4 linked regions of the Homo sapiens genome follow. The protein of the gene in region 4 binds, or shares a complex with, the protein of the main gene of each other region. Each region holds a gene or a part of one and is shown on either strand. Other genes may lie near its edges. The genes, in order: ATRIP, PRIMPOL, RAD9A and RPA1. A codon is read from its position in the direction of its gene.

Region 1 (6,965 bases), on a different chromosome or scaffold from region 4:
GCCAGGCTGGTCTTGATTTCCTGTCCTCGCGATCCACCCGCCTCAGCCTCCCAAAGTGTTGGGATTACAGGCGTCAGCCACTGTGCCTGGATGCCTGGCTAATTTTAAAATTCTTTGTAGAGATTGGGTCTCCTTATGTTGCCCAGGTTGGTCTTGAACTCCTGGGCTTAAGCAATCCTCCTGCCTTTGCCTCCCAAAGTGCTGGGAAGAATTACTCTTGAGAGCAAAGCAGGGAAAGATCTAGTAAGCAATATAGATGTTTTTCAACCTAAGAACATGGTTCAAACTCATAAATGATCCTTCTTTTTTTTTTTTTTTTTTTTTGAGACAGAGTCTCGCTCTGTTGCCCAGGCTGGAGAGCAGTGGCGTGATCTCGGCTCACTGCAACCTCCACCTCCCAGGTTCAAGCGATTCTTGTGCCTCACCCTCCTAGGTAGCTGGAATTACAGGCGTGTGCTACCACGCCCGGCTAATTTTTATATTTTTAGTAGAGACGGGGTTTCACCATATTGGCCAGCCTGGTCTCAAACTCCTCGCCTCAAGTGATCAGCCCACCTTGGCCTCCCAAAGTGCTGGGATTACAGGCGTGAGCCACCACACCCGGCTGAAACTCATAAATGATCCTTCTAAAACAACAGATCCTATTATTCTTTCCCTATCCTTCATCCAATTCCAAGAGTCTCATCTAAAGCCTGAGGAGATCTCATTGGCCAGAACTCAATGATCTACTTATTATTCAGTAATAGTTACTGACCACATGCAATATGCCAGGCATGTTAGGCTCTACAGGTACAATAGTGAGCAAAATTGATACTTCCTTACACTCACAGAGCTTAAAAGACATTCAACAAATAATCACACAGATAAATGTAAAATTACAACTGTGATTAAGAACTGCAGAAGAGAACAAATATAGGAAAGCCTATAATATGACAGCAATCTGACTTAAGTGGGATGATTGGAACATTTCCCTAGGGAAGACTTGAAGGAGCTGAGAGCTGAAGGACAAGTAGGAATTAACCAGATGAGTGGAAATGAATGAATGAAAAGTATACTCAATGTACAAAGAAAGAACAATGTATAAAGTTCCTGTATTGTAAAGAAGCAGAGAGAATTCAAAGAATGTTAGTGCAGCCAGGACCCAGAGAGTGAGAAAGGGCCAAACCAGGCTGGGCCTTTCAGGCCATGTTAAGGATTCTGGTCTTCACACTAGAAGAAATAAGAAATTATTAAAGGGCTTTCATTAGGGGTGTTCATGGCTGGGTGCGGATGGCTCATACCTGTAATCTCAGCACTTTGGGAGACCAAGGCGGGTGGATCACCTGAGGTCAGCAGTTTGAGACCAGCCTGGCCAACATGGCGAAACCCCGTCTCTACTAAAAATACAAAAATTAGCCAGGCATGGTGGCGGGCACAAGTAATCCCAGCTACTTGGGAGGCTGAGGCTACTCGGGAGGTTGAGGCAAGAGAATCTCTTGAACCTGGGAGGTAGAGGCTGTGGTGAGCCAAGATGGCATCACTGCACTTCAGCCTGGGTGACAGAGTGAGACTCCGTCAAAAAAAAAAAAAAAAAAAAGGGTGTTCACGTATATCTGTGTAAGACACAGCCAGATTTGAGTTTTGAAAAGATCACTCAGAATGTGATGTGAAGCCTCACTTGTAGGGAGTCAAGACTGGAAATGGGAAACCAATTTAGCAGACCATTGTTCAAGAGAGGACTCATGGTAACACAGATCAGGCAGCTGGTAGAAGCAATGTGAATAGGATAGACTCCAGAGAAGGATTAAGAAGGTAAGCTTGACATGCTTTCCAAATAAATTAGATGTAGAGTCAAGGAAAGGGGAAGAGTCGCTTTGTGCCACTGGATGGAGAGTCGTGCTAGTTACTTCCTTGTGGAACATCTGGTCATCATTCTCTGAATGTCTGCTTTGCCGGCACCATGCTAGAAGTGCTGGAGGAGGACTGGGTTTCCAGGAAATGATCGTGTTGAGTTTAAGGTGCCTTGAGACACCCAAGTACAGATGCAAGGTGCACTCAAAACATTTCTCTTTCTGGGAGTCCTCAAGACTTCACTCACTCCTCAACTAGAATGTAAGCTCCATGAAGGACAGTTTTTGTATTTTGTTCATTGTAAGGTCAGCTGCAGTTCCTCACGTTTGGGCACCTAGCACAGTTTACTGGTTGTATAAAAGAATAAATTTATTTCATCTCTTGCCTGTGTCTGGCTCCTCCCATGCTCACACTGCCCAAGGGAGACAGTGGGCTTCATAAGATCTAAAGCCGCTCAAACTTGTCACAAGAATGGGTCCCCATGCATGGGTAGTGATGGTTCTGATGGTGGTGGTAGGTGTGTTCCAAGGATCTCTGCTTAGAACCAAGAACCAAGTGGCCTAAACTTTAGAAAATAACGTAAAATGTCAACTTAGCCTTCTGTGTTTCAAATCGGCTGTTTGACCTGGCTAATGCATTTCCCCCTAAAATCAAAGGACCTTCTGGAAGACAACCGCTGCTTAAATCAGGGTGTTCCCATATTTTAAAAAGGCGAAAAGGCAGTGCTGGCCGCGAGGTTCCGAAGCCACAGCCATCAAGGGGATCTGGCGCGGTTGACAACTCCCTCCGAGCAAAAGGCCGCGAGGAGCACTCACTGGACACGTCCCGAGCCGCGGCCGGACATTGGCTCAGGGCCTGTGACGCGAGGGTGTCAAGCTCCTCCAGGTCGTCGGCAGTGAAGTCCCCATGCGCGCCGAACGGGTCGTCAGGGTCCGGGGCAGCGGCTGCGGAGAAGCCCCGGGCCCGCTTGCTCGGGGGGTGCCCGGTGCCCGGCGGCGGGCCGGGGCGAGGCGCCGGGGGCTCGCTCCGCCTCTTGCTGCCTGGCGCGGAGGTCCCCGCCATGCTTTCCGCTCACCCCAAGTATCCGACAGCGCCGAGCTAGACTTGCCTGCCGCCAGGCCGGAGAACTGGACCAACCGTCCGCGCGCCGCCGCTTGCCTCCGCCGCGAGTGCCCCGCCCCTGGCCCAGGGGCCAATCAGCTGGCAGGCGGAGGGCGCGGAGGAATGACGAACGTCCGAGCGCGCCGCCACACCCGGCCCCGCCCGGTGTTTAGAGGTCCACGGGCGGGATTCGGCAGGTTTGCTGCAAGGACTCAGTGCGGCGCGACCCGTTACCGGAGAGGCGGGCCGGAGGCGCACCAGCTCCGCCGCGCTGGTGGCTTTGCGCTCCCTCCCTGGCATTCCGTGGAGGAGGGCCGCGCAGGAGCAGCCTGCCCTAGCATTCACGCGTGTTGCGTTTGAGTCGAGCCAGGCATCATTCAGGGATGTGGTCTCCGTGACCTCGCTTTCCTTCTGCCGCCAGACCCACCTCCCACAAACCCCTAGGCTTTCTTGAGGAGAGTGGAATTTGTTGGGTGAGGAGTATGAATAGAGCTGTCGTGTGCAGACATCTTCGGGTTTAGTGAATGTTTCACATGTGTACATTTGAGGTAGGCCCAGGGAGGAGGAAAGTCCAAGGAGGAATGATGTTTGGAGCTGTTCTTGTGTGGGAGGGGGTGGGAGCTGCTCAGGCTGTTAACATCCATTCCTCTGAGTGCTGGACTGTTTTTTTTTCCTAAGCTCTGGTTGTATAGAATAGGGCTCAGGAGGTCAAGGAAGTCCCCCTGTAAATGGCACCTGCGCTGTCCTACAAGTTGAGTCAAGTTAGCAGGATAGAGGGGTAGGAGGCTGGCACATAAGACTAACACGAGAATTCTACATTGAAAGGGAGGCCACACAAAGGCCAGGTAAGAGTTACCGGTGGCGAACAGAGGTAAAGCTTCACAAAGGAGCAGCAATTTGAGGTGGGCTTGCGTGCCTGACAGATTTTATTGGGCAGCTGTGGTGTGCAGAAGTTAGCCGCAATAGAGAATTTGGCAATGGAGAGTAACAGGAGCAAGACTCTTTCAGCCTTACCTGCTCAGTGCCAAACTTCACCTGTGAGTGTCCTAGGAATATTTGTGAAAGCATTAAATGAAAAGAGTAAATGAAAAAGAGAGTGCTATCAGGGCCTATAATGTCTAAGGAGTTTAAAATTTTTTGGAGCAACTGGTAGTCTCCGTCAGATAGCTTCCCAAGTGTTGCATGCTTAATTGCTGCAGGACTCTGGTCCTGGAAAGAGACAGGACTGTTCATTTGTTAAAGAGGGATAGGTTCCACCAAGTAACTTGCTTTCAGGAACAGTGTGAATCACTGGTGCTCAGGTTTGTTTTAGCAGCATACGGCTGGGTGCCAGCTAGCAAGGCCCCACAGGGAATGCCTGAAGCCTACTGAAGGGTGCTACTGGCTGTGCAACTTTCTGGAGAGGACCAACACAGGCTTCCCCCTGCCCCCTCTCCCGCGTTAATATCTAGTACATTAATCATGAAAGTTTTCAATATTCTAAAACCTAGTTTTGATTTAGCAGTCTCATAATGGTTCCAGAGCGCTCTTCGACAATATTCTCAGAGAAAGCTGAGCATTATTAACATAATTGTATTAAGGGCCTGGGAGGGAAATCCAAATACTTGTGCTTCTGAATTAATTTTTTTTTTTTAAATACAGGGTCTTGTTCTGTCTCCCAGGCTGGAGTGCAGTGGTGTGATCTTGGCTCACTGCAGCCTCGAACTCCTGGGCTCAAGTGATCCTCCCACCTCAGCCTCCCAAATGGCTGGGACTACAGAAGTGCACCACCACACCCAGCTAAGCATTTTAAAACATATTCAGCACACATTATGGATGGTCTCTGTCTTTGCATTTATTGAGGGGCAAGCGGTAGGTATGCCTGGGACTCCAGTCCTGGGCAGCAGGAGGTAGAGTGAGCCCCCATTTTGCCTCACCCCCAACCCCTTGCCTGGCACTGGCACCCCCTCCATCCACCAGCAAGTGGGCTGGGGCTTCCCGCAGCTGCTGCCCTGGACCTGTTTGGTGCGCATGGGGACTTCACTGCTAGCAACTTGAAGGATCATGTAATTTGCCCTGCCCTGCCTCTTCCACAGTAGAGAAGTTCCTTGACAACAGGAACTGTTCCGTTACATACCCCAGTGCCTGCATATAGCAGACGCCTTACATGAACAGATGAACAAGTCTCATCAAAATATACGGCAATTTGGATGTGACAACATAAAGATGGGTTTTCTTTTAAAAGCACAAATTCTGGTCAGGCACAGTGGCTCATGCCTGTAATCCCAGCACTTTGGGAGGCTGAAGCAGGCAGATCACTTGAGGTCAGGAGTTTGAGACCAGCCTGGCCAACATGGTGAAACCCCTCTCTACTAAAAATACAAAAAATTAGCTAGGCATGGTGGCGGGTGCCTGTAACCACAGCTACTTGGGAGGCCAAAGCAGGAGAATAGTTTGAACCCGGGAGGTGGAGGTTGCATTGAGCAGAGATCATGCCACTGCACTCCAGCCTGGGTGAGAGTGAGACTCCACCCCCTCCCCCACCAAAAAAAAGTGCAAATTCTTCCACTAAACTCATGTAAGGTATTCTGTCAGGTATACAACCACACAAGAACGCCATCCTTTCAAATGAGTTGGTTTAATTTCAGGTGATACAAAGTTTAGGGTAGAACAAGGACCAAAGAACAGACTCTGGCAAGATTCTGAGCTGGTTTTACTTTAAATTCACAGTTATGGTAGGAACGACTTAGTGAAAACAACTAAAGAGATGATGAGCCACTGTAAGATTTTTCTTTTTTTACAAAAGTTTATTCTTAAATGTACAACAGCTCCAAGACAACACTTAATTCCAGCTATACGTGGCAAAAGATGTTATGGCAGGGAATAGAGAGGTTTAAATACAGATGAAATAAAGGGTCACCATCTCCTCAGGCACAAGGAACAGCTTACTTTTTGCCAGATTTCTTAATTCCACCTGTGGCTGCAAAAGAAAAATAGTCACAATTAGGGAAAAATATAGTTCTTACGGTAGAAGCCCCACGGGCCTGCTGTGGACCTTAGTAAAGCCTGGCTTTTGTATTGGGCATTCACTTTAACACAAGCATGGATAGCAGCTTCACTGATACTGTCTGTTCTAGGTAAAGGTAAAATGAGGATGAGATGGAGTACAAGCAGTGGCTGGCTGTGCACTGGTCTAGATCTACACTTCTGTATACTTCACAGATTGGCTTATTTAATCCTCATGCCATATCAACCCATTTTACAGAAAAAGAAGTCCTTTTTTTTTTTTTTTCTGAGATGGAATCTTGCTCTGTCGCCCAGGCTGCAGTGCAGTGGCACGATCTCAGCTCACTGCAACCTCTGCCTCCCAGGTTGAAGCAATTCTCCTGTCTCAGCCTTCCGAGCAGCTGGGACCACAAGCCCTGGCTAATTTTTGTATTTTTAGTGGAGACGGGGCTCACCATATTGGTCAGGCTGGTCTCGAACTCCTGACCTCAGGTGATCTGCCTGCCTCAGATTCCCAAAATGATGGGATTACAGGTGTGAGCCACCGACCCCAGCATTTTTTTTTTTTTTTTTTTTTTTTGGAGATGGAGTCTTGCTTTGTCACCTAGGCTGGACTGCGGTGGTGCAATTTTGGCTCACTGCAGCCTCCGCCTCCCAGGTTCAAGTGATTCTTCATGCATGAGCCTTCCGAGTAGCTGGGACTAAAGGCGCATGCCACCATACCCGGCTAATTTTTGTATTTTTAGTAGAGATGGGGTTTGACCATGTTGGCCAGGCAGGTCTCGAACTCCAGACCTCAAGTGGTCCACCCACCTCAGCCTCCCAAAGTGCTGGGATTACAGTCTTGAGCCACCATGCCCAGCCAAAAAAGAAGTCTTATTGTTAGGTGTTGTTCAAGTATGTGACAAGCCAGGATCCCAACCTGAGTCATCTGACTTCAAAGTCCACATTCTTAACTGCCATGTTACACTACCTTCCATATTATGATCCTGGCACCTGGTATACTCTGTCAATTTACAAATGACCATATATGTGGAACGCAGTAGGCG
Region 2 (7,020 bases), on a different chromosome or scaffold from region 4:
AGTAACATAAATATTCCTTTGTGATTAATAGTATAATTTAATACCTGTTTGCAAAAGAGAAATTTCAAAACTCCCTTTGAGTACACGCATATATTCGTGTATGTGCATGATTATTTTCTCCCAGCACCTGGTGAGATACTCAAGCATTGCTATGACAAGAAAACTCCAGAATTCAATTCTAAGAGCAACTAATAGTGTGGTCACGAACTGTGGAAGCCAATTCAGCCTGAACTAATTTCACCAAAATTCCTAGGCAAAGGAAATGGAACTCTAGCTTAATGTGTGGTTCTGCTGCATGCTACCTACCTGGATTTATAGTAAAACCAAAATTCAGCATAGGTTGTCACAAGGTAAATACGTTGTCCATCTCCTACTTTGCATTCCAAAGCAAATACATGAACGTCCTGCATAAAATCAAAAAAGAATTCAGAAAAATTCACAAAATGCAAACCTAAACTCAACTGTAGCTACTGAATGTTCATAAAGAATTTTTCATTCAAGTTTTCAGAAACTGTAATTTGAACATTTGTATTATTAAAAACAAGACAAATAGTCACTAGGTTTATGCCATTCAAAATCTAATTATACCTATTTTTTAATCATTCATACAAAAGGTGAAAACAATTAGAATATGCAGACCAAAGAGAAAAAAGGAGAGAAACCACTCTTAAAAATATTACTTGTATGACTTCCTATGATAGTTTTATTTCTTAGTTTATGAAATTAAACTTATTTTTCAAAACTACTTATTATTATAAATGATTTGGGCTAAAATTGATTAGTAAATTCCCCAGTACATAAAAAAATGTATGTAGGAGCCTTTTTTTTTTTTTTTTGAAACAGAGTCTTGCTCTGTTGCCCAGGCCGGAGTGCAGTGGCGTGATCTCGACTCACTGCAACCTCTGTCTCCCAGGTTTAAGCGATTCTCCTGCCTCAGCCTCCCAAGTAGCTGGGATTACAGGTGCCCACCACCACGCCCGATTAATTTTTTGTATTTTTAGTAGAGACGAGGTTTCACCATGCTGGGCAGGCTGGTCTCGAACTCCTGACCTCAAAGTGATCTGCCTGCCTCAGCCTCCTAAAGTGCTGGGATTACAGGCATGAGCCACCGCACCCAGCCGGAACCATTTTTTTAAAGGTTAATTACTGCGGTAGTTGTTTAAATATAACTGCTCATGCCTCCTGCCATAAGGGTTCTTCTAATAGAGGAATACATCCACAAGTTCTTTTGTTTCCTCTTAGCTAAAGGTAGCTGGTGAGCATATTTTTCTTTTCATGAGTGAAAAATCACAGGACTCAGTTGCTTAACCCTAACAAAAACCTTTTTGAAATAAATTTTATAGACTGGTGATTAGCAAGTCCAACAAGCATACCCCTATCTATATCTTTTTAAAATTCAAGTTCAAATGAATCTGTCAGTATTTTAATTTCTGCTGCTTGAATTAGGTTTACCCAAAATGCCTAAGAAAGGTATTTCTTAAACCATTCTCATGAGATTTGAGTAAGCCTACCCTTACTAGAGAAAGAGAGGTCCTTCTAAAACTTCCAGCACTTGGAGATTTTATACAGCAACAGTGATCAGACTCACAGCACACTTATGCTATCATATAAGCATCTTATCGTTTCTTTCATATTTCTTTACATTCCCCACAGTGCCCCAAAAAAAAAAAAGAATGTGCAATACACATCTGTTGCTTGATTTAGTGATATTTATTTATTTATTTATTTATTTATTTATTTATTTATTTTTGAGATGGAGTTTCGCTCTTGTTGCCCAGGCTGGAGTGCAATGGCGCGATCTCGGCTCACAGCAAACTCCGCCTTCCGGGTTCAAGCCATTCTCCTGCCTCAGCCTTGGGAGTAGCTGGGATTACAGGCATACGCCACCACACCCGGCTAATTTTGTATTTATAGTAGAGACAGGGTTTCTCCATGTTGGTGAGGCTGGTCTCAAACTCCGGACCTCAGGTGATCCACCCGTCTCGGCCTCCCAAAGTGCTGGGATTACAGGCATGAGCCACCTCGCCCGGCCAGTGATTTTTATTTTTCAGCACCATGTTCTTTGAAAGGCTGACACTTCTTTCTCCTACTTGCTTACTGTGTTGAAATAAATATGGTTCCCCTCCCTCTAAGCATAAAGCTTCATTTAAATATCATCACAATTTTTAAAAACTAATTGGTACTAGATGTGTCATTCTTTTTCATTACTAATATAAATTAAATGGTTAATGATTCACAGGAATATTTTTCCTAAATCACATGCCATTAAGATTGCCATTAAATTTTCTTGGTAGAATACATGGCCTGAAATGAAGACAAATAATAGACTTTTTTTTTTAAAGAACTGAAATTATAATGAAGAAGAAGAAGAAAGAAGAGGAAGTGGAAGAGGAGGAAGAAGAAGAGGAGGAGGAGGAAATTACTTCTTTACAGCTTTTAACAAAATTAAAAGCTTGAGCTTGTCGATGAAATAGTCTCCAGATGGAGGGTGGTTCTTCTGGCTTGGACAATCTTGGTCTATACACTGAGGACAACGGTTTCCTCTCATAATGAGATGCTCGTTCTTCAATTTGCTTCAGTTTTGCTTCCCATTTTCTATTCATTGGTTCAGAAGTGTGGAGAGAATAAATCCTATCCCACGTAATATTTCTATCAATTACTACTAAAACAAACAACAAACAAAAAGGCCATTAATTTCTTTGTTTAGAATATATTTTGTTTGATAAAGTTTCAAAACTCACTTCCTGACACTTATTTTCTTGTTTATTCTTTGCATGAAGTTTTACCACAGAATGAGAGCAAGGCTGGTTATCAGAAATTCTTAGATCCTGGTTCTTCATCTAATGGTATTATGACCTTGGACAGGTTAATGAAGCGCCCTGAATCTTAGTTTAATCAACTGAAAAATGGGAATCAATATCATCTTGAGTACTTTATATACTTAGCTTGAAGATAAATGTGGTAAGACATAAGCAATCTCTAAATTACAAAGCCTCATGTAAATATATGTGCTTTTTGTATCACTGTGGTTTTTACTATAACCATTTTATTGTATCACGTGCTATGACCTTGTCCACCCATTCTTGTGCTATTATTTCTCAGTGTAGAATTCATTTCTAGATACCAATGTACAGCTCTTAGTTCCCTTTTCCTCTGTTTCTGTCCATGTCTCCTCTTCTCTCTCAACACAACTTTTAGTTGGGCTAGTTTTGGATGTCTGTAGTAATGGATGATTTTTCTTTCTATATAATACTTCCATGTCAACCACGCCAGAGTAAGGGGGCCAGGCAATAATTTTCCAATTTGGGATTATAATTCATTTACAAAAGAAAAAGAATAGGTTTTTAGAAGAGTGGGAAAACTTTCACTCTAGATTAAAAACAGCCAAATCAGCCACAAACCCCTTGCCATTTTTCCCATCAAGAGATGGCACCTAAACTCACTCTCGTACTGACTCTCAGCTTGGCCATATGACTTGTTTTGGGCCAACATCACATTGACAAAAGTGAAGCAAGCAGAGGTTTAACGAGTGCCTTTGCAGCAGACTTGGTTATCCCAGAGTCCTGCCCTGAGATTGCCATGCCATAACTCTAGCCTCATAGAGGATGAAAGCCCACATGGAAAAGAACCAAGGAATTGCAGCCAACAGCCAGCATAAGCAGTCTGATATGTGAGCTGGGCCATTCCGGACATCCAGCCGTCATCTGAATTCAACGCATTAGTAAGCCTGAGTCCCAGAGAGACCTATCAAACTGCCCAGCCAACCCACAGAGCTATAAGAAAAAAATAAATTTGGTTGTTTTGTCTTTTTTAAGCCAGTAAGTTTGGGGCTGGCTTTGACATAGAAATAGGTAATTAATAGAGTTCCTCTCTTCATTAATATCATCTCTGCCATAATTTACCTATGTGGAAAACAGATATATTGGGGCTTTTTTGAAGTGAAATAATATGTACTAAATCATTTAACAGTGAAGTCCTATTTCTTTGGTAACACATTTGTGCTTATTGAGTTGATAAACATTGTCTTGAATTTTAGCAGAAAACTTTGCAGCAACACAAACTCATTGGCAAATGAGTATTTCCTGGAAGGAAAACCAGAATCTCCCTAAAAGATTAAGAAAGGGGGCCAGGCGCGGTGGCTCCTGCCTGTATTCCCAGCACTTTGGGACGCTGAGGCGGGTGGATCATGAGGTCATGAGTTCGAGACCAGCCTGACCAAGATGGTGAAACCCCGTCTCTACTAAAAATACAAAAATTAGCTGGGCATGGTGGTGGGCACCTATAATCCCAACTACTCGGGAGGCTGAGGCAAGAGAATAGTTTGAACCAGGAGTGGAGGTGCCAGTGAGCCGAGATCGCACCACTGCACTCCAGCCTGGGTGACAGGGCAAGACTCCATCTCAAAAAAAAAAAAAAAAAGATTACGAGAGGGTAGACCAGGCGCCGTGGTTCATGCCTGTAATCCCAGCACTTTGGGAGGCAGAGGAGGGCGGATTACCTGAGGTCAGGAGTTCGAGACCAGCCTGACCAATATGGTGAAACCCCGTCTCTACTAAAAATACAAAAATTAGCCAGGCGTGGTGGCGGGCACCTGTAATCCCAAATACTTGGGAGGCTGAGACAGGAAAATTGCTTGAACCCAGGAGGCAGAGATTGCAGTGAGCTGAAATTATGACACTGCACTCTAGCCTCCTGAGTAGCTGGGACTACTCCATCTCAAAAGAAAAGAAAAAAAAAAGGGATAGTACATCATGACCTTGTTAGAAAAAAAACAAAGGCATATTATCCGCAGATTTCAAATTTGACATCAATCGTAACAGACCTAAGAAAGATATTCTCTCAGAGTTATACCTAATCCACATATAAAGTATATACTAGGAAACAGAAATATAATTCTAAAGGTACTAACATAAATTTCATAACAGGTATGCTTAGGGAAAATATCAATTCACTGGATGGAGGAGATGAAGCAATTTTTTTAAAAACTGCTTCAGCCGGGCGCGGTGGCTCACGCTTGTAATCCCAGCACTTTCGGAGGCCAAGGCAGGCGGATCACAAGGTCAGGAGATCGAGACCATCCTGGCTAACACAGTGAAACCCTGTCTCTACTAAAAATACAAAACAAATTAGCTGGGCGTGGTGGTGGGTGCCTGTAGTCCCAGCTACTCAGGAGGCTGAGGCAGGAGAATGGCGTGAACCCGGGAGGCAGAGCTTGCAGTGAGCCAAGATCGTGCCACTGCACTCTAGCCTGGGCAACGGAGCGAGACTCTGTCTCAAAAAAAAAAAAAAACTGCTTTAACTTGTCAATACAAAGTGATATGGCTCCTTATTGCTAGATTCTGAGTATTCAGTTACTTTGATCTGCTTCACGTGCAGCTAAAAATCTGCTATACTTAGATAAACCTAATTGAGAAACTGACTTTCTATCATGAAGTTTATTAACTTTTAACAAAGTCCATTGATTATTAGTGAAGAAAATAAATACAGAATGCAATCACATCTGAATCTAGCTAGTATCTACCAATAACTGACTACAAATGACTATGTGGATATTCGTACTTCGTGACACTGAAATTTTATCATGAAAAATTGTTTGATTTTGTAAAAGTCTTGGTAGGACCACGGGAGTATGTCATACAGGAACATCATGGAGTCACAATGAAAAAACAGCTTAAGACTCACTGAACTGGGGAAACCATGAGCATCAACAGAAGAAGAAAGAGAAGTTCAGTATATGTCATGCCCCCTTCATATCTGCACAGCTTGAAAATTTTAACAGCTGGGTTGAGCATCAGAAGACAACTGGGGCTTGGTGTAGTCCAGCAGGAGGGTTGAATTACAAAAAGCAAAGGAAATGGAGAACAGTAAGGCATCTGGCATTCTGGTTTGGGACTATCACATTCCTCATCCCTCCCCTCTGGGGGAATATGTCACCATATTAGAAATGCTTTTCATTCCCGGTGGTGAAAGAGTGTTGTCTTTCTTTTACATAATTGTGTATCAAAGCTCCTTTCCACTCAGGGACTGTAACTATTTTTGGTAAGTTTCCAAGTTCCGAAGGAAAACTTTTATTGTATTTTAAAAGATTGGGCTCCGCCCGGTGCAGTGGCTTGCACCTGTAATCCCAGCACTTTGGGAGGCCCAGGCGGGTGGACCACAAGGTCAGGAGTTCGAGACCAGCCTGGCCAACATGGTGAAACCCCATCTCTACTAAAAAACAAAATAAAAGATTGGGCTCAAAGAGTTTCTATTATTTAATTCTTAACATTGCACAGAATGTTTGTTTAACCATGTTTGATTATTTAAGCATGGTTGATACTGATCTTTCAACCAAAGGGGGTCAAGCTAGAAAAAAGGCTATGTTAGTTCTTTTCGAGTAACTATAGTGGGAGAAGAGGCAGCAGGGATGGAAGGGGAGAGATGACGCAGACCTAAGTAGCCCCAGCTTCCCTGCGTTTATGCCCAGCCTTGCCCAGCTGTGACACTTGATGGTCTGGATTCCAGGAGCAGCTGAAGGAGGGGGCACATGCTTCCTATTTACCAGTTTCTGGGGGGACCTGAAGCCAGCCTGGCCATGGTTCTTCCTAGCCTAGTTCTCTCAGTTTCTTTCTTTCTCACCTACCTACCTTCCTTCCTTCCTTCTTCTTTCCCTCCTTCCTTCCCTTCTTTCCTTCCTTCCTTCCCTTCTTCCTTCCTTCCTTCCTCCCTCCCTCTTCTTTCCCTTCTTTCCTTCCTTCCTTCCCTTCTTCCTTCCTTCCTTCCTCCCTCCCTCTTCTTTCCCTTCTTTCCTTCCTTCCTTCCCTTCTTCCTTCCTTCCTTTCTCCCTTCCCTCCTTCCTCCCTCCCTCCCTTCTTTCCCTTCTTTCCTTCCTTCCTCCCTCCTTTTCTTTTTTCTTTTTTTCTCATCACTGGTCAATTCCTATTCCCCAACTCCAAATTCTCCCTCTACCCTGAGATTAGATTCATCAGTATTTTGCATTTTCTGCCAATACTCTAGTTCTATGATTTGGTAATATCCTGG
Region 3 (7,760 bases), on a different chromosome or scaffold from region 4:
AAATCACACGGGGGCAGGGACGTATCCTACCACAGCTCCCGACTTCCCGCTCTAGGCTTCTTGCTGTTCTAAGCCCTTCAGAAAGTTCCAACGAGTTCTGACTTTTGGCAAGGGGGTGGGAGGGTGACTGAAAACTACTCAATACGAGTCGAAAGAGTGTATGTCAGCTGGGGGCAGTGGCTCACACCTGCCCCTGGCTGATATAAAAGGCAGACATGGTTCCTGGCCTTGTGAGGTAGACACACTAGTGGAGAAGACAGATATGAAACATATGAAAAAAAGCTTATGTGTCCCTTCTCTTCTGCCTAGGGTCCTCAAGGTCATAGAACCCCATAACCCCATTAGGTGTCAGGGGCAGAAACAGGACTGTGTGAAGATTCACAGCCTCCACCTCCCTTGCCTTCACGGAGCTTCGGCATCTACCCTTATTCCAGGCGGCTGCTCAGGTAATGAGTATGAGGCAGAGGTGGGAAGGCTGTCCTGGTTTACACGTGGTGGGGGAGGGGTCCAGAGCGCAGGATGAGGCTGAGAGCATGGGGACAACTGTCAAGCAGGGACAGATGGGACTGTGGGTGGAGGGCTGGAAGTTGGATGTTTCTCTCAGCACTGTGCTAAGAGTGACTTAGAGACATCTCAGCTGCATTTGGCTCACGCTGATTTATTTATTTGTTTGTTTGCTTATTTTTCCATGCCCTTTGTCAACAGGAATGGTTTACAGATATTTATTCATTCATTCATTTTTTGAGACAGAATCTCACTCTGTTGCCCAGGCTGGAGTGCAGTGGCGCGATCTTGGCTCACTGCAACCTCCACCTCCCAGGTTCTAGCGATTCTCCTGCCTCAGCCTCCTGAGTAGCTGGGATTACAGGCACGTGCCACCATGCCTGGCTAATTTTTGTATTATTAGTAGAGATGGGGTTTCACCATGTCGGCCAGGCTGGTCTTAAACTCCTGGCCTCAGGTGATCCACTTGCCCCGGCCTCCCAAAGTGCTGGGATTACAGGCGTGAGCCATAGCGCTCGGCCTACTTTTTTTTTTTTTTTTTTTTTTTGAGAAAGGGTCTGGCTCTCTTACCCAGGCTGCAGTGCAGTGGCGCTATCTCAGCTCACTGCAATCTCCACCTCCTGGGCTCAAGTGATCCACCAGCCTTGGTCTCCCACAGTGCTGGGATTAAGCATGAGCCGCCGCGCCCGGCTGGTTTACACATTTTTAAATGTAACACCTATTTATTCATTATTTACTGAGTGCCAGACCCTGTGTGAGGTACATACAGCAACAAACAAAACAGACATGGATGCTGGGTGTGGTGGCTCACGCCTGTAATCCTAGCACTTTGGGAGGCTAAGGCAGGAGGATCGCCTGAGCCCAGGAGTTCAACTCCAGCCTGGGCAACAGAAGGAGACCTTGTCTCTAACAAACATTTAAAAAATTAGCTGGCTGTAGTGGCATGCGCCAGTAGCCCTAGTTACTCGGGAGGTTGAGGTGGAAGGATCGCTTGAGCCTGGGAAGTTGAGGCTGCAGTGATCTATGATCGTGCCACTACACTCCAGCCTGGGTGACAAAGCAAGAACCCATCTTAACAAACAAAACAAAACAGAACAAACAAAACAAAGCCAAGGCCGGGTGCAGTGGCTCACGCCTGTAATCCCAGCACTTTGGAAGGCTGAGACGGGCAGATCAGTTGAGGTCAGGAGTTTGAGACCAGCCTGGCCAACATGGCAAAACCCCATCTCTAATAAAAATACAAGAATTAGCCGGGCGTGGTGGCACACACCTGTATTCCCAGGTACTTGGGAGGCTGAGGCACAAGAATTGCTTGAACCCCAGAGGCGGAGGTTACAGTGAGCCGAGATCGCGCCACTGCCCTCCAGCCTGGGCGACAGAGCAAGACTCTGTCTTCAGAAAAAACAAAAAACCAAAAACCAGACATGGTTCCTGCCCTTGTGAGGCAGACACACTAGTGAGGAAGACAGATGTTAAACAGGCAAACACACGCATGAAATAACGTGATAAGTGCTGTGGCTAAAACAGGGTCTAGCTAGAGTGTAATGGGATGCTGGTGGGGGCAGAAAAGACGGCACTGAGCCTGGAGGAAGAGAAGCACCGCCACGTTAGAAGGGGTAAGACGATGCCAAGTGGTGGGGACAGCTAAGGATGTGCTAAAATCCCCAGGTGGAAAAGGAAGTGGAGGGTTCAGGGAGCCCACAGGGTTGGCATGGCTGTGCAGGTGATCAAGGGGAGGCCACAGGTGGAGAAATGGGTGGCGGCGGCTCCTGCAGGTTCAGGGCAGAGTTTGGATTTTATGGCAACCACTGGAGTGTGCAAACACGGGAGAGGCATGACACAATGGACATTTTAGGAGGGTCACTTTGCTGCTGTATGGAGAGTGGCCTGGAGGGGGCAGGGTGGAGGCAGGAGACCACTGAGAGCTGTTACAGTCATCCAGGTGAGAGGATGGTGGCCTAGGCCTTGGAGATGGAAGAGGAGGGCAAAGTTGCCACCTGTTAAGTTGCCACCTGTTTGGGAAGCAGAGTGGTCAGGACTTAACTGAAAGACTGTGTAGGGGTGAGGGCGAGCATGAGGTCAAGGATGACTCCAGCATACTGAGCCGGATGCCCAGGGACAGGGGCACTATTTCCATGGATCCCCCGGGAAGGGGAAGGGAAGAGTAACCTCCTCCCCCAAGGCTCCACGGAAGGGGCAAGGGCTGGTGACGAGGGGAGCAGAAGGGAAGGAGAGGGAGAAACAAAGTGTATGCATGTATCCAAATGTGTACAATTATTATGTATCAATTCAACTCATTTGAAAGTGGGTCTGGAGAGCAAGGGTGGCAGAGATAAATATATCTTCTGCACTACCACAGGACCTGAGGGGCAAGGCACGGGCAGGCCCTGCAGGAATACAGGGATGCCCTGGGCCCTTCCAAGAACTACCAGAGCCTTGGTACTGTGGGGAGAGTAGGGGTCAGTGAGTTTCTCCAGGACTCCCTTACATTTTACACACGTGGACCCGGAAGCCCAGGGGAAGGGGAATACCTTCCAGCTGATGCATCCCCACCTGGCACACAGTCTGGTTTTTTTTTTTGAGATGGAGTCTCACTCTGTTGCCAGGCTAGAGTGCAGTGGCGCGATCTCGGCTCACTGCAACCTCCGCCTCCGGGTTCAAGCAATTCTCCTGCCTCAGCCTCCAGAGTAGCTGGGACTACAGGCGCGTGACAACATGCCCGGCTACTTTTTGTACTTTTAGTAGAGACGGGGTTTCACCATGTTGGCCAGAATGGTCTGGATCTCTTGACCTCGTGATCCGCCCGCCTCGGCCTCCCAAAGTGGTAGGATTACAGGCGTAAGCCACCGTACCCGGCCAGTCTGGGGTCTTTTAAAAATACAGACCCGGGGCTGGGCGCGGTGGCCCATGCCTGTAATCCCAGCACTTTGGGAGACCGAGGCGGGCGGATCACTTGAGGTCAGGAGTTCGAGACCAGCCTGGCCAACATGGTGAAACCCGTCTCTACTAAAAGTACAAAAATTAGCCAGGCGTTGTGGCAGGCGCCTGTAATCCCAGCTACTTGGGAGGCTGAAGCAGGAGAATCGCTTGAACCTGGGAGGCGTGATCGTGCCACTGTACTCCAGCCTGGGCGACAGAGCGAGGCTCTATCTCAAAACAAACAAACAAAAAAACCCCACACACACACACAAAAAACAAAAAACAGGCCGGTGCAGTAGCTCACTCCACTTTGAGAGGCCAAGGCGGAAAGACAGCTTGAACCCCACAGTTGAGACCGGCCTGGGCAACATGGCAAGACTCCGTCTCTACCCAAAAAAAAAAAAAAAAAAAAAGGGCCGGGCGTGGTGGGTGTGCCTGTGGTCCCAGATACTCAGGAGACTGAGATGGGAGGATCCCTTGAGCCCAGGAGTTCCAGGCGGCAGTGAGCCGTGTTCGCGCCACTGCACTCCAGCCTGGGTGACAGAGCAAGAATATGTCTCAAAAAACAAACAAACAAAAAAAGGCACATAACCACGATCTACCCTCGTAAAACGTTTCCAGAGCGTCCCAGCGGTGCCCCTCATCATCTGGCGGCCCCTACGCCTCTCTGAGACTCACAGACCTACTCCCCTCTCCAGGGGGCGGAGCCCACACCGCTGAGCATTTACTCTTGTTCTTCCCTCTGCCAGGGGCACCGTTCTACCCCTTTCTGCCTGGAGAAACTGCCGTTTTTCCTTAAAGGATCCTCGAAGCCGGAAGGAGCAGCCACCTCCCACTCCCGGCTGCTGCAAGCAAGCTGCTTTGACTTCTTTCTAGAGTTGGGGATTGCTGCTGGAGTCCGAGTCTCAGGCCCAGAGTGGGTGCGATGGTCTTGCTTGCACCCTGTATCCCCCGGCAGACGCCCGGGAACTCTACTAAGTGGGTGACCCCAGAGAGCTCGCCCCCACACTCCGACTCCGAGTCCAGCACTCGGTCCACTGCACAGGGACCTCGCGCCCCACAGCTGCGTCCTCTCTGACCTTCGCAATCCGGTGCGCGGCCCGCGGAACGCCCCGATCTCCAGGGGCACGGAAGGCCGAGGCGTGCCGGGGGAGCCAGGAGCAGCTGGCTGGCGGGCGCCGCGGGCCTCCCCGGTCACGTGACACCCCGGACAACGTGCGCCGTCACGTGACGGCAGAGCCTGTGAGCGTTTTTCTCACGTGACGGAGGCGCCTGCACGTGGACCAATGGGGAGGCGGGGGCGGGGCCGGCAGGGGCGGTGCGCGGGAAGGGACCCCGGACCCGGAGGTCGCGGAGAGCTGGGCAGTGTTGGCCGCTGGCGGAGCGCTGGGGCAGCATGAAGTGCCTGGTCACGGGCGGCAACGTGAAGGGTGAGTGCAGGTCGGCCTGGCAGCGGCGGTGCAGCAGCCGCGGAGCCGCCAGCCTAACCCCCTTCCGCTCTTCTCCCCGCAGTGCTCGGCAAGGCCGTCCACTCCCTGTCCCGCATCGGGGACGAGCTCTACCTGGAACCCTTGGAGGACGGGGTGAGGGGCTAGGGTGTGGGGGGCGGGTGGGACTCCAGCCGGGAGCGGGTAACCCGGACTAGAGTCTCGCCCCCACTAGGCGGGATGACCGCTGGCAGATTTGTCGGCAAAGTTTCAGTTTCTTAGTCTGGCGGCTGTCATCTTCCCAGGCCGGTGTGTGAATTGAGGAAAGCTGTCCTGCGAGCTCCCAGGGGGTGACGTGCACTTAGAGAAACTCGGGGAAGGCCTGGGTGTGCGACCCCTCCTCTGCGGCAGCAGCGCCGGGGCCGACTCTGAAGGCTTCCATGGGGAAAGGAGGGTTTTTCAGCAGGTGGTGGCGGAGCGGGAGGACGATAGGGCAAGTGTGTGAGCAGAAGCAGCCAGAGGGCTGGGTCTGTGGCTGCCCCCTGACCACGTCCCTCTCCCTGCTCTTCGTGGCCCAGCTCTCCCTCCGGACGGTGAACTCCTCCCGCTCTGCCTATGCCTGCTTTCTCTTTGCCCCGCTCTTCTTCCAGCAATACCAGGCAGCCACCCCTGGTCAGGACCTGCTGCGCTGTAAGATCCTGATGAAGGTGAGGCCCTTCCCTCAGCAGTGGCACTACTCCACCCCAGGAATCTCCACCAGCTGTGCCTCTGCCCTGGGGTACTCAGTAGATGCTAAGTGGGGAGAGAGACACGTGCAAGCCCAATCCATGCAAAACACAGGGAGGGCCATGGTAAAAGCATCACAGCGGGGACCTGAGAGGGTGGTGACGCTCAAGTTCGTCAAGAAAGGTAAGCACGTCTTTTGGCCGGGCGCGGTGGCTCACGCCTGTAATCCCAGCACTTTGGGAGGCCGAGGCAGGCGGATCACGAGGTCAGGAGTTCGAGACCAGCCTGGCCAACATGGCGAAACCCCGTCTCTACTAAAAATACAAAAATTAGCTGGGCGTGGTGGCACGCGCCTGTAATCCCAGCTACTCGGGAGGCTGAGGCAGGAGAATTGCTTGAATCCGGGAGGTGGAGGTTGCAGTGAGCTGAGATCGCACCACTGCACTCCAGCCTGGGTGACAGAGCGAGACTCCATCTCAAAAAAAAAAAAAAAAAAGGTAAGCAGGTCTTTCAAGGCATTCCAAGCATAAGGAAGAGCATGAATGAGGCCTAGAAGGATGCCAGTGCCCGAGGTGACGTGGGAGCCCTTTTCCCAGAGTTACATGCTGGGCCCATGATGGGTGTGGGCCTGCATGGGACAGGAGAGCTTGTTGCAGAGATGTGATGCTAGGCTGAGGTGTCTTATCCCATGCAGTCTTTCCTGTCTGTCTTCCGCTCACTGGCGATGCTGGAGAAGACGGTGGAAAAATGCTGCATCTCCCTGAATGGCCGGAGCAGCCGCCTGGTGGTCCAGCTGCATTGCAAGTTCGGTGAGTGGGCAGCCGGCCAGCCAAGGGGTGCCTCAGCAGGGAGGTCGGCGAGGCCCACTGAGACCCTATCGCCCATCCAGGGGTGCGGAAGACTCACAACCTGTCCTTCCAGGACTGTGAGTCCCTGCAGGCCGTCTTCGACCCAGCCTCGTGCCCCCACATGCTCCGCGCCCCAGCACGGTGAGCACACCCCTGCCCTCAGCTCAGCCCCGGGTCTCTCTCTTCCTTCTTTGGGGCCCCAAGGGGTTGATTTTAGAAGGTACCTCTTTCATTTTCCCTACAGAGTTTCTGTGAACCTCAAAGACATCCCATGGCCCGCTATGTGCTCAGGTCCTTACCTGGCTCTTTAAAGGCAGACGGTGGCATGGAGGAGGGGCAGGCGCCTCCTTGCTCCATTCTCCTTACTGTTAGGAGCCTGCATTCTCCATCCCAAAGGTCTGACTTGACTTTCTGGCTGCTCAAACCCATTCCAACTCCTCCTCTAGGGAGCACATTTCTGGCCTGCCACCAAATCTCTTGTCTGGCTTGAGTAACCTTGAAGGTCTGCCCATAACCTGTGGCTCAGAGGCTCAGACCCCTTCTCCGGCCTGGGCATCCTTCCAGAGGTGTTCCCCATTCAACGGCAGCCTCTTTTCCTGACTGCCCAGGATCGAGGAGTCCCCAAGGCCAGGGCAGGAGGCTGGAGGGAGGCTGAATAATCAGCTATGGGGTGGAGCTGTTCTGGGCAGTCCGAGCACTGGGGGCTGTCTGGGGCCAGGGAAATGGGGACTCCAGTTGAAGCAAACGTCCCTGGCGAGGACCAGCTCAGAGAGGAGTGGGCTCTCCCCCTGCTCCATGCTGGTCACTGCTTGCATTCAAGTGGCCCAAGGTCCTGCTCATTTCTCAGGGTGACTGAAGATCCCTTTGGGTCCTGACATCTGTTTCCCCAGGTTCTTTTGAGCCAGCACTGCTCAGAGCTCTTTTGGGTAGTGAGAGACGGGGGCCAATTCCTTGGTCTGCATTTAGGGTGGTGTCTTTTTTTTTTTTTTTTGAGACAGAGTTTCGCTCTTGTTGCCCAGGCAATGGCACGATCTCGGCTCACCACAACCTCCGCCTCCCGATAAAAGTGATTCTCCTGCCTCAGCCTCCCGAGTAGCTGGGATTACAGGCATGCGCCACCATGCCCGGCTAATTTTTTGTATTTTTAGTAGAGACAGGGTTTCTCCATGTTGGTCAGGCTGGTCTTGAACTCCCGACCTCAGGTGATCTGCCCGTCTCAGCCTCCCAAAGTACTGGGATTACAGGCGTCAGCCACCACACTCAGTCTCTTTTTTTAAAAATGAGCAATTGTTTCTCTCGTTTTGTTTTGAGATAGAGTCTCGCTCTGTCACCCAGG
Region 4 (7,038 bases):
GGTTGCAGTGAGCCGAGAATGTGCCACTGCACTCCAGCATGGGCAACAGAGCAAGACTCTGTCTCAAAACAAACAAACAAACAAACACAATAATTTTAAAATTTTAAAAAGAAACTGATAAATCAACAAACATAAAACTGCAATTATTAATAGGTAACATAAACACTGAGCATTTACTATGTATCAGTGTGCTAAGCACTTTAAATTTAATAACTCACTCCATCCTCCTACTTACCTTATGCAATAGATATCATTGCTCTCATTTTACAGAAAAGAAACAGTTTAGTATCTTGCCTCAAGTCATGCATCTAATAAGTGAATGGGGTCGTGCGCGGTGGCTCACGCCTGTAATCCCAGCACTCTGGGAGGCCGAAGCAGGTGGATTGCTTGAGGTCAGGAGTTCGAGACCAGCCTGGCCAACATGGTGAAACCCCATCTCTACTAAAAATACAAAAATTAGCCGGGCATCATGGCAGTCTCCTGTATTCTCAGCTACCTGGGAGGCTGAGGGAGGAGAATTGCTTGAACCCAGGAGGCGGAGGTTGCAGTGAGTCAAGATCGTGCCACTGCACTCCAGCCTGGGCAACAGAGCAAGACTCCATCTCAAAAAGAAAAAAAATAAATAATTCAATAAGTGAATGAACAGGAATTGGGGTCTCAAAGGGATTTAGCCTAGTAAGGGAAGTCACAAATGAGCTGAGATACGAAGATAGTGTTTGCCAGTGTGGGGAAGAGTGAAGAACCACCCAGGCAGTGGGCAGAGGGAAAAAAATGTTCAGGGCCGGGTGCGGTGGCTCACTTCTGTAATCCCAGCACTTTGGGAGGCCGAGGAGGGTGGATCACCTAAGGTTGGGAGTTCAAGACCAGCCTGGGCAACATGGTGAAACCCCCGTGTCTACTAAAAATACAAAAAATTACGCAGGTGTGGTGGTACATGCCTGTAATCCCAGCTACTCTGGAGGCAGAGGCACGAGAACTGCCTGAACCCAGAAGGCAGAGGTTGCAGTGAGCCGAGATTGCGCCACCGCACTCCAGCCTGGGGCGGTAGTGGGGGGGTATGGGGAGAAAGAGTGAGACTCTGCCTCAAAAAAAAAAAAAAAAAAAAAAAAAAGGCCGGGCACAGTGGCTCACGCCTGTAACCCCAACACTTTGGGAGGCCGAGGCGGGCGAATCACAAGGTCAGGAGATCGAGACCATCCTGGCTAACACGGTGAAACCCCGTCTCTACTAAAAAATACAAAAAATTAGCCGGGCGTGGTGGCGGGTACCTGTAGTCCCAGCTATTCGGGAGGCTGAGACAGGAGAATGGCGTGAACCCAGGAGGCAGAGCTTGCAGTGAGCCGAGATCGCGCCACTGCCCTCCAGCCTGGGCAACAGAGCAAGATTCCAGCTCAAAAAAAAAAAAAAAAGTTCAAAGGCCCCATGGAAGAAGGTAGGAGTATGGAATATACCAGAAATCTAAATTTAAAAAAAAATGTGGGGGTGACTGGAGAGGTAGGCTGAGAGTATGCTGTGGATGGGAATGGTGGCAGGAACGTATGCTGAGTGGAAGTCAGCAGCTCAGGCAAAAAAAAAGACGGTGCCAGTATGGATGGAGAGAAGCCAGTGGGCTTGATAGATCTACGCAGAGGCAAAATACACTTCACTTCGTGAGGGACTGGATGCCCAGGTAATGGACAATATAGGAGGAATGATTTCTCAATTTCTGGTTAGCACTGAACTGAATAGATAATGGTGCCATCCGTGGAGATAGGGATCAAGAGGCCCAGACTTAGAAAGATAAAGAATTTGCTTTGGGATACGTATACTGAACTTAAAACCCTCTGAAGCATGGAATAAGCAGACAGATGACGGAAGTTTGTCTTTTAGAGTAAAGGTGGCTCTGTACAAAGAAATTTGTGAGCAACTGACATATATTAATAGATGGCAATGGAATTGCCTTGGGGCCAGGCGCGGTGGTTCATGCCTGTAATTCCAGCATTTTGGGAGGCCGAGGCGGGCGGATAACTTGAGGTCTGGTGTTCGAGATCAGCCTGGCCAACATGATGAAACCCAGTCTCTAATAAAAACACAAAAAGTAGCCGAGTGTGGTGGCGCACACATGTAGTCCCAGCTACTCGGGAGGCTGAGACAGGAGACTCACTTGCACCCGGGAGACGGAGGTTGCAGTGAGCCGAGATCGCGCCTCTGCACTCCAGCCTGGGCGACAGTGAGTGTCGCCCAGGCTGGAGAAAAAAAAAGAAATTGCCTCGGGAGTCAAGAGGGCCTAGAGGGAGCCTTGATTCAACAAAAATTTACAAAGAGGGACTTACAAATAAGACGGGGATAGACCTGCCAAGCTGAGCCACTAAAAACCAAGGAAGAGGGTGTGACCTGAAGCAAGCAGGGCTTAAACGCAAACGCTGCTGAGAACTCAGGTAAGCTGAAAACGGAAAAGGGCTGGATTTAGCAACTTGGAGGCCACTGGTACCTTCAGCCAGGGTTTTCTACAGCGATCAAAGGGATGACTGGAGTGGGTTAAAGAGTTGATGAAAGGCGAGGAAAGGAAGTGGCTGAAACCAGACAAGAAGTTTGGCTGTGGGTGGGGAAAGGAGAAGAGACAGAAAGTGTCCGCAGGTGGAAGATGCAGAGAAAGGCAAGCGTTTATTTAGTTTGTTCTTACGTAGGAAAAATGTGAGCATGTTTTAAAGACGATCGAAAGAATGCTTTGAGGAGGGGGCGATGACACTAGAGGGACGCCCGGCGGGTCCCCACCGCCCCCCGCCATCTCCTCCCCTCGCGTTCATCCCCCGTCGCCCCGGGCTCCCCTCCCCCTCTCTACTCCGCGAGGCTCGGGGCCGCAGCCACCCCGGACCGCCGGCCCAGCCCCCGGCACCTCCTCACCGCAATGGCCCCCTCGCTCAGTTGGCCGACCATGGCTCCACCGCCAAGACTTCCCCGCGGACCCCGCAACAGCTCCAGCTTCCCCACCCGGGTCCCGCGCGCTGCGCAGTTATTGGCCCGAGAAGTTGCGCGCACCGCTCCCGCCCCCGACGTGCGCGCGGCTCAGGGGCGGGCCCGGGCGCTACGCAGCCGCCGCATTGGCCGAGGCGCGGCCCACGTGACCCACCCATGGTCCCAAGCGAGGCCTGGCGCGGGACGCCGGACGCGGTGCGGGGCGGAGCGGGGCGCCAAGGGGCGCGCCAGGAGCTGCGCGGGCGCTGGGAGGGAGACCAGGGCGCAGTTCCGGGCGCGTCTGAGCGGTTCTCGAGGCGTTCTCGCCTCGGTCTCTGGCGAGTGCACGGGTTGGTATCCCAGAGGAGGTTAAAGCTGTTCCTTGAGACCTCCGCTGCTAAATAGAGTCGCAGTAGTGACCCGATTCGTCCAGCAACGCGGGGCTGACTTCCCGCCTCCAAGCCCTGAGCTTGGCACCGTGGCGGTGGGGGGTGGGGGTGGGGGGTCTCCGAAAGGGAATCAGACCCGGCCCCCGTCCTTAGAGAAGAGGACAGTGTGTGGGGGCACTTTATGCCGTCAGTAACCCCACCTCCAGGTAGACGTGGTACAGGCCCCAAGGGTGTTGGAATCACAGCTGGGAAATCAGGGACGCCGTCCCGGAGGAGGTGCCATTTGAGCCGAGTCGAAGAACGTGTGGGAATTTTCCAGGTGGACTCCATAAGCCAGGGTAGGGTTGGTCCGGAAAGCATGAGTAGCCTATGCCAAAACATTGGAGAGTTGAAATAGCCTGGCAAGCCGGGGATAGCAATGAGTTGTTCAGTATGCAAGGGTGCATGCAGAGGAGTAAGTGACACCTGAGAATTAGAAAGTCAGACAAGGGTCAAGTAAGGATGGTTTTGTCCTGGGCTTCCTGGTATGCTTGGAGTAGCGTTGATGAATTTAAGGGCAGAGCACTGACTTCTGTCTCAGTGTTGGAGGCTGGATTGAAAGTGGGGAGTGGTGCCAATGGCATGGACATTAATTATAACACTCTAGGAAGAATGCCAGACGAGATGGTGAGGACTTAATCAGAACGCTGAACTATGTAAGAGAGGGAAATACCTTGTTAAATGAATAGTTGCTGGGGTGGGTGAGAAAGAAAAATCTGGGATGTGTCTCAGAGAAACTAGAGAGGGATCAGGCCGGGCGCGGTGGCTCACGCCTGTAATCCCAGCGCTTTGGGAGGCCAAGGCTGGCGGATCATCTGAGGTCAGGAGTTCGAGACCAGCCTGGCCAACATGGTGAAACCCCGTCTCTACTAAAAATACAAAAATTAGCCGGGCGTAGTTGCGCGCATCTGTAATCCCAGCTACTCGGAGGCTGAGGCAGGAGAATTGCTTGAACCTGGGAGGCGGAGGGTGCAGTGAGCCGAGATGGTGCCACTGCACTCCAGCCTGGGTGACAGAGCAAGACTCTGCCTCACAAAAAAAAAAAAAAGAGGATCTAAGAGCACAGATGGTAGCTATCTAGTCTGCTTCGTCTTTGTATAACCATCACCTGCATGGTGCCTGTGACAAAGTAGTCTTTCAGTAAATATTTCTGAATGGAAGGATGTTGAGTGAATTGCTGTGAGAAAATATAGATCCTTCCTTAGCATATAAACTAGAGGAAAAGACCACAAGAATTGATTTTATTGTTTCAGGCTTCCTTGAATGAAATCTTGATTTTCCTTTTTTTTTTTTTTCCGAGACAGAGTCTTGCTCTGTCACCCAGGCTGGAGTGCAATGGCGTGATCTCAGCTCACTGCAACCTCCGCCTCCCCAGTTCACGCAGTTCTCTTGCCTCAGCCTCCCGAGTAGCTGGGACTACAAGTGTGCGCCACCACACCTGGCTAATTTTTTTGTAGTTTTAGTAGAGACGGGGTTTCACTGTGTTAGCCAGGATGGTCTCCATCTCCTGACCTCGTGATCCACCTACCTCGGCTTCCCAAAGTGCTGGGATTACAGGTGTGAGCCACCGTACCTGGCTGAACTCTTGATTTTCTAAAATTGTGCATTTGTAAGATTCCTATTTTCTTACTCATTTTATAGATCAAAAGCAGCATGGATCTGCCTGTGGATGAATGGAAATCATATCTGCTTCAAAAGTGGGCTTCACTCCCGACGTCTGTTCAGGTCACAATTTCTACAGCAGAGACCTTGAGGGATATCTTTCTTCACTCCTCTTCACTTCTTCAGTAAGTAAATCAAGCTTTAACAAGGGAATTGTGAGCCAAAAAATGTTCTATTTTGTCATTTGCTCTGAAGTAATGTGTCTTTTTCTTAAATAAAGATTGAGTCTTGCTTGTTTCCCAGGCTGGTCTCAAATTTCTGGGCTCAAGCAATCCTCCCACCTTGGCCTCCCAAGGTGCTGGGAGTACAGGCGTGAGCCACCATGTCTGGCCTGGTAACATCTCTTTTTGATGGAAAATGCCTGAAGTACTTTTCCTGGTTCGTTTCTATCCCAGCGTGTCCTGTGAACTAATTCACTTCTGTCATCCTGCAGGATTAGCCAGATCTTTCCTCAGGAAAGCTCTCCCTGAGCCTCAGCTGGGCCATCTTCACTCTTTGTACATTTACAATGCTGTGTGATTTTCCTTTATATATGTGTGTGCTCTTTTGACTAATGCCTGCCTTTGCCGCTAGATTGTGAACTTCATGAGGGAAGGGACCGTGTTTGTATTTGTTTTTCTTTTTTTTTTTTTCTTTTTTTCTTTTTCTTGAGACTGTCTCGCTCTGTCACCCAGGCTAGAGTGCAGTGGCGCAATCTCAGCCCACTGCCTCCGCCTCCCGGGTTCAGGCAATTCTCGTATCTCAGCTTCCCGAGTATTTGGGATTACAGTCGCACACCACCATGCTCGGCTAATTTATTTATTTATTTATTTTTATTTTATTTTATTTTTTTTGACACAGGGTCTCACTCTGTCACCCAGTCTGGAGTGCAGTGGCACAATCTCAGCTCACTGCAATCTCCACCTCCTGGGTTCAAGCGATTCTCATGCCTCAGCGTCCCAAATAGCTAGGATTACAGGCGTACACCATCATGCCCAGCTCACATTTTTGTATTTTTAGTAGAGACAGGGTTTCACCATGTTGGCCAGGCTGGTCTTGAACTCCTGCCCTCAAATGATCCGCCCGCCTCAGCCTCCCAAAGTGCTGGGATTACAGGCATGAGCCACTGTGCCCGGCCTGTTTGTCTTTCTATAGACAAAAATAGTGCAGTGTCAAAAAATAAGTGGTTAGTAAACATTAATTGAATGACAACTTGGTAATGTATATAAAGTTCTTAGTTTAGTTACTGGCTGTTATTAGTGCTTAAAATGACGTATAAAGCAGAACCTTATATATTTGCAGATCCAGAAACACACACCTTTCACGTTCAAGGTTGATGTCTTTATCTTTGTGCCAGGCACATAGTAGGCGCTCGTATATTAATTGAATGAAATAATGAGTTCAGTTTTGAGCCTTGCCAGTTCAGATACTCGGTACAGTTAGGGTTATACTTTTTTTGTTAGTCTTCATTTCTTTTCTTTTCTTTTCTTTTTTTTTTTTTTTTTTTTTTTTTTTGGACAGAGTTTTGCTCTTGTTGCCCAGGCTGGAGTGCAGTGGCACAGTCTTGGCTCACTGCAACCTCCGCCTCCCAAGTTCAAGTGATTCTCCTGCCTCAGCCTCCCGAGTAGCTGGGATTGCAGGCGCATTCCACCATACCCGGCTAATTTTGTATTTTTAATAGAGATGGAGTTTCGCCATGTTGGGCAGGCTGGTCTCCAACTCCTGGCCTCAGGTGATCCGCCCGCCTTGGCCTCCCAAAGTGCTGGGATTGCAGGCATGAGCCACTGCGCCCGGCCCCCCAGTGCATTTTTATTTCTCGTGTGTATTGCCTATTTGTGTCCCTTGCCCATTTTCTAGCAGGTTGTCTTTATTCTCTTGTTCATTTGTAGGAGATCTTCATAAATCTAGCTGTATAGTTCTTTGCTATGTAAGTTACTATTTGTTGTATAAATTATTCCCAATCTGTTTATCTTTTTTACCCTATTTACAATGTAAATGTTTTACATTTACATTGTATATAAATTGTGTATATATG

The links.
Region 1: the proteins of RPA1 (region 4) and ATRIP are in contact, whole or in part, in a crystal structure (PDB 7XV4), measured with the Homo sapiens proteins. Residues at the interface, in NP_002936.1 of Homo sapiens: Ile33, Thr34, Arg41, Arg43, Ser54, Met57, Thr86, Leu87, Lys88, Asp89, Arg91, Val93; in NP_569055.1 of Homo sapiens: Gly53 (codon at 2,736), Asp54 (codon at 2,733), Phe55 (codon at 2,730), Thr56 (codon at 2,727), Asp58 (codon at 2,721), Asp59 (codon at 2,718), Leu60 (codon at 2,715), Glu62 (codon at 2,709), Leu63 (codon at 2,706), Asp64 (codon at 2,703).
Region 2: the proteins of RPA1 (region 4) and PRIMPOL are in contact, whole or in part, in a crystal structure (PDB 5N85), measured with the Homo sapiens proteins. Residues at the interface, in NP_002936.1 of Homo sapiens: Arg31, Pro32, Ile33, Thr34, Thr35, Arg41, Arg43, Leu53, Ser54, Ser55, Met57, Asn85, Leu87, Lys88, Arg91, Arg92, Val93, Tyr118, Asn119, Glu120; in NP_001332824.1 of Homo sapiens: Asp514, Asn515, Gly516, Ile517, Asp518, Asp519, Tyr521, Phe522, Leu523, Glu524, Ala525.
Region 3: the proteins of RPA1 (region 4) and RAD9A are in contact, whole or in part, in a crystal structure (PDB 8JZY), measured with the Homo sapiens proteins. Residues at the interface, in NP_002936.1 of Homo sapiens: Asn29, Arg31, Ile33, Arg41, Arg43, Leu44, Leu45, Ser54, Ser55, Phe56, Met57, Asn85, Leu87, Lys88, Asp89, Arg91, Val93; in NP_004575.1 of Homo sapiens: Asp297, Phe298, Ala299, Asn300, Asp301, Asp302, Ile303, Asp304, Tyr306, Met307, Ile308, Met310.

The regions. Positions count from the first base shown.
Region 1 is NC_000003.12:48,442,773-48,449,737, reverse strand, and holds the start of ATRIP (ATR-interacting protein), read right to left. Parts: upstream 3,002-6,965; 5' UTR 2,893-3,001; coding exon 2,646-2,892; intron 2,613-2,645; exon of another isoform or gene 2,216-2,612; intron 1-2,215. Other genes in the region: TMA7 (translation machinery-associated protein 7), read right to left, coding at 5,856-5,890. UniProt on the Homo sapiens protein: Required for checkpoint signaling after DNA damage. Required for ATR expression, possibly by stabilizing the protein.
Region 2 is NC_000004.12:184,652,724-184,659,743, reverse strand, and holds part of PRIMPOL (DNA-directed primase/polymerase protein), read right to left. Parts: intron 2,663-7,020; 5' UTR 2,604-2,662; coding exon 2,424-2,603; intron 405-2,423; coding exon 307-404; intron 1-306. UniProt on the Homo sapiens protein: DNA primase and DNA polymerase required to tolerate replication-stalling lesions by bypassing them.
Region 3 is NC_000011.10:67,387,226-67,394,985, forward strand, and holds the start of RAD9A (cell cycle checkpoint control protein RAD9A), read left to right. Parts: upstream 1-4,760; 5' UTR 4,761-4,819; coding exon 4,820-4,853; intron 4,854-4,935; coding exon 4,936-5,006; intron 5,007-5,016; exon of another isoform or gene 5,017-5,290; coding exon of another isoform or gene 5,291-5,428; coding exon 5,429-5,557; exon of another isoform or gene 5,558-6,264; coding exon of another isoform or gene 6,265-6,270; coding exon 6,271-6,385; intron 6,386-6,465; coding exon 6,466-6,565; intron 6,566-7,760. UniProt on the Homo sapiens protein: Component of the 9-1-1 cell-cycle checkpoint response complex that plays a major role in DNA repair. The 9-1-1 complex is recruited to DNA lesion upon damage by the RAD17-replication factor C (RFC) clamp loader complex.
Region 4 is NC_000017.11:1,825,972-1,833,009, reverse strand, and holds the start of RPA1 (replication protein A 70 kDa DNA-binding subunit), read right to left. Parts: upstream 3,006-7,038; 5' UTR 2,917-3,005; coding exon 2,884-2,916; exon of another isoform or gene 2,876-2,883; intron 1-2,875. Other genes in the region: protein-lysine N-methyltransferase SMYD4, read left to right, coding at 5,016-5,149. UniProt on the Homo sapiens protein: As part of the heterotrimeric replication protein A complex (RPA/RP-A), binds and stabilizes single-stranded DNA intermediates that form during DNA replication or upon DNA stress.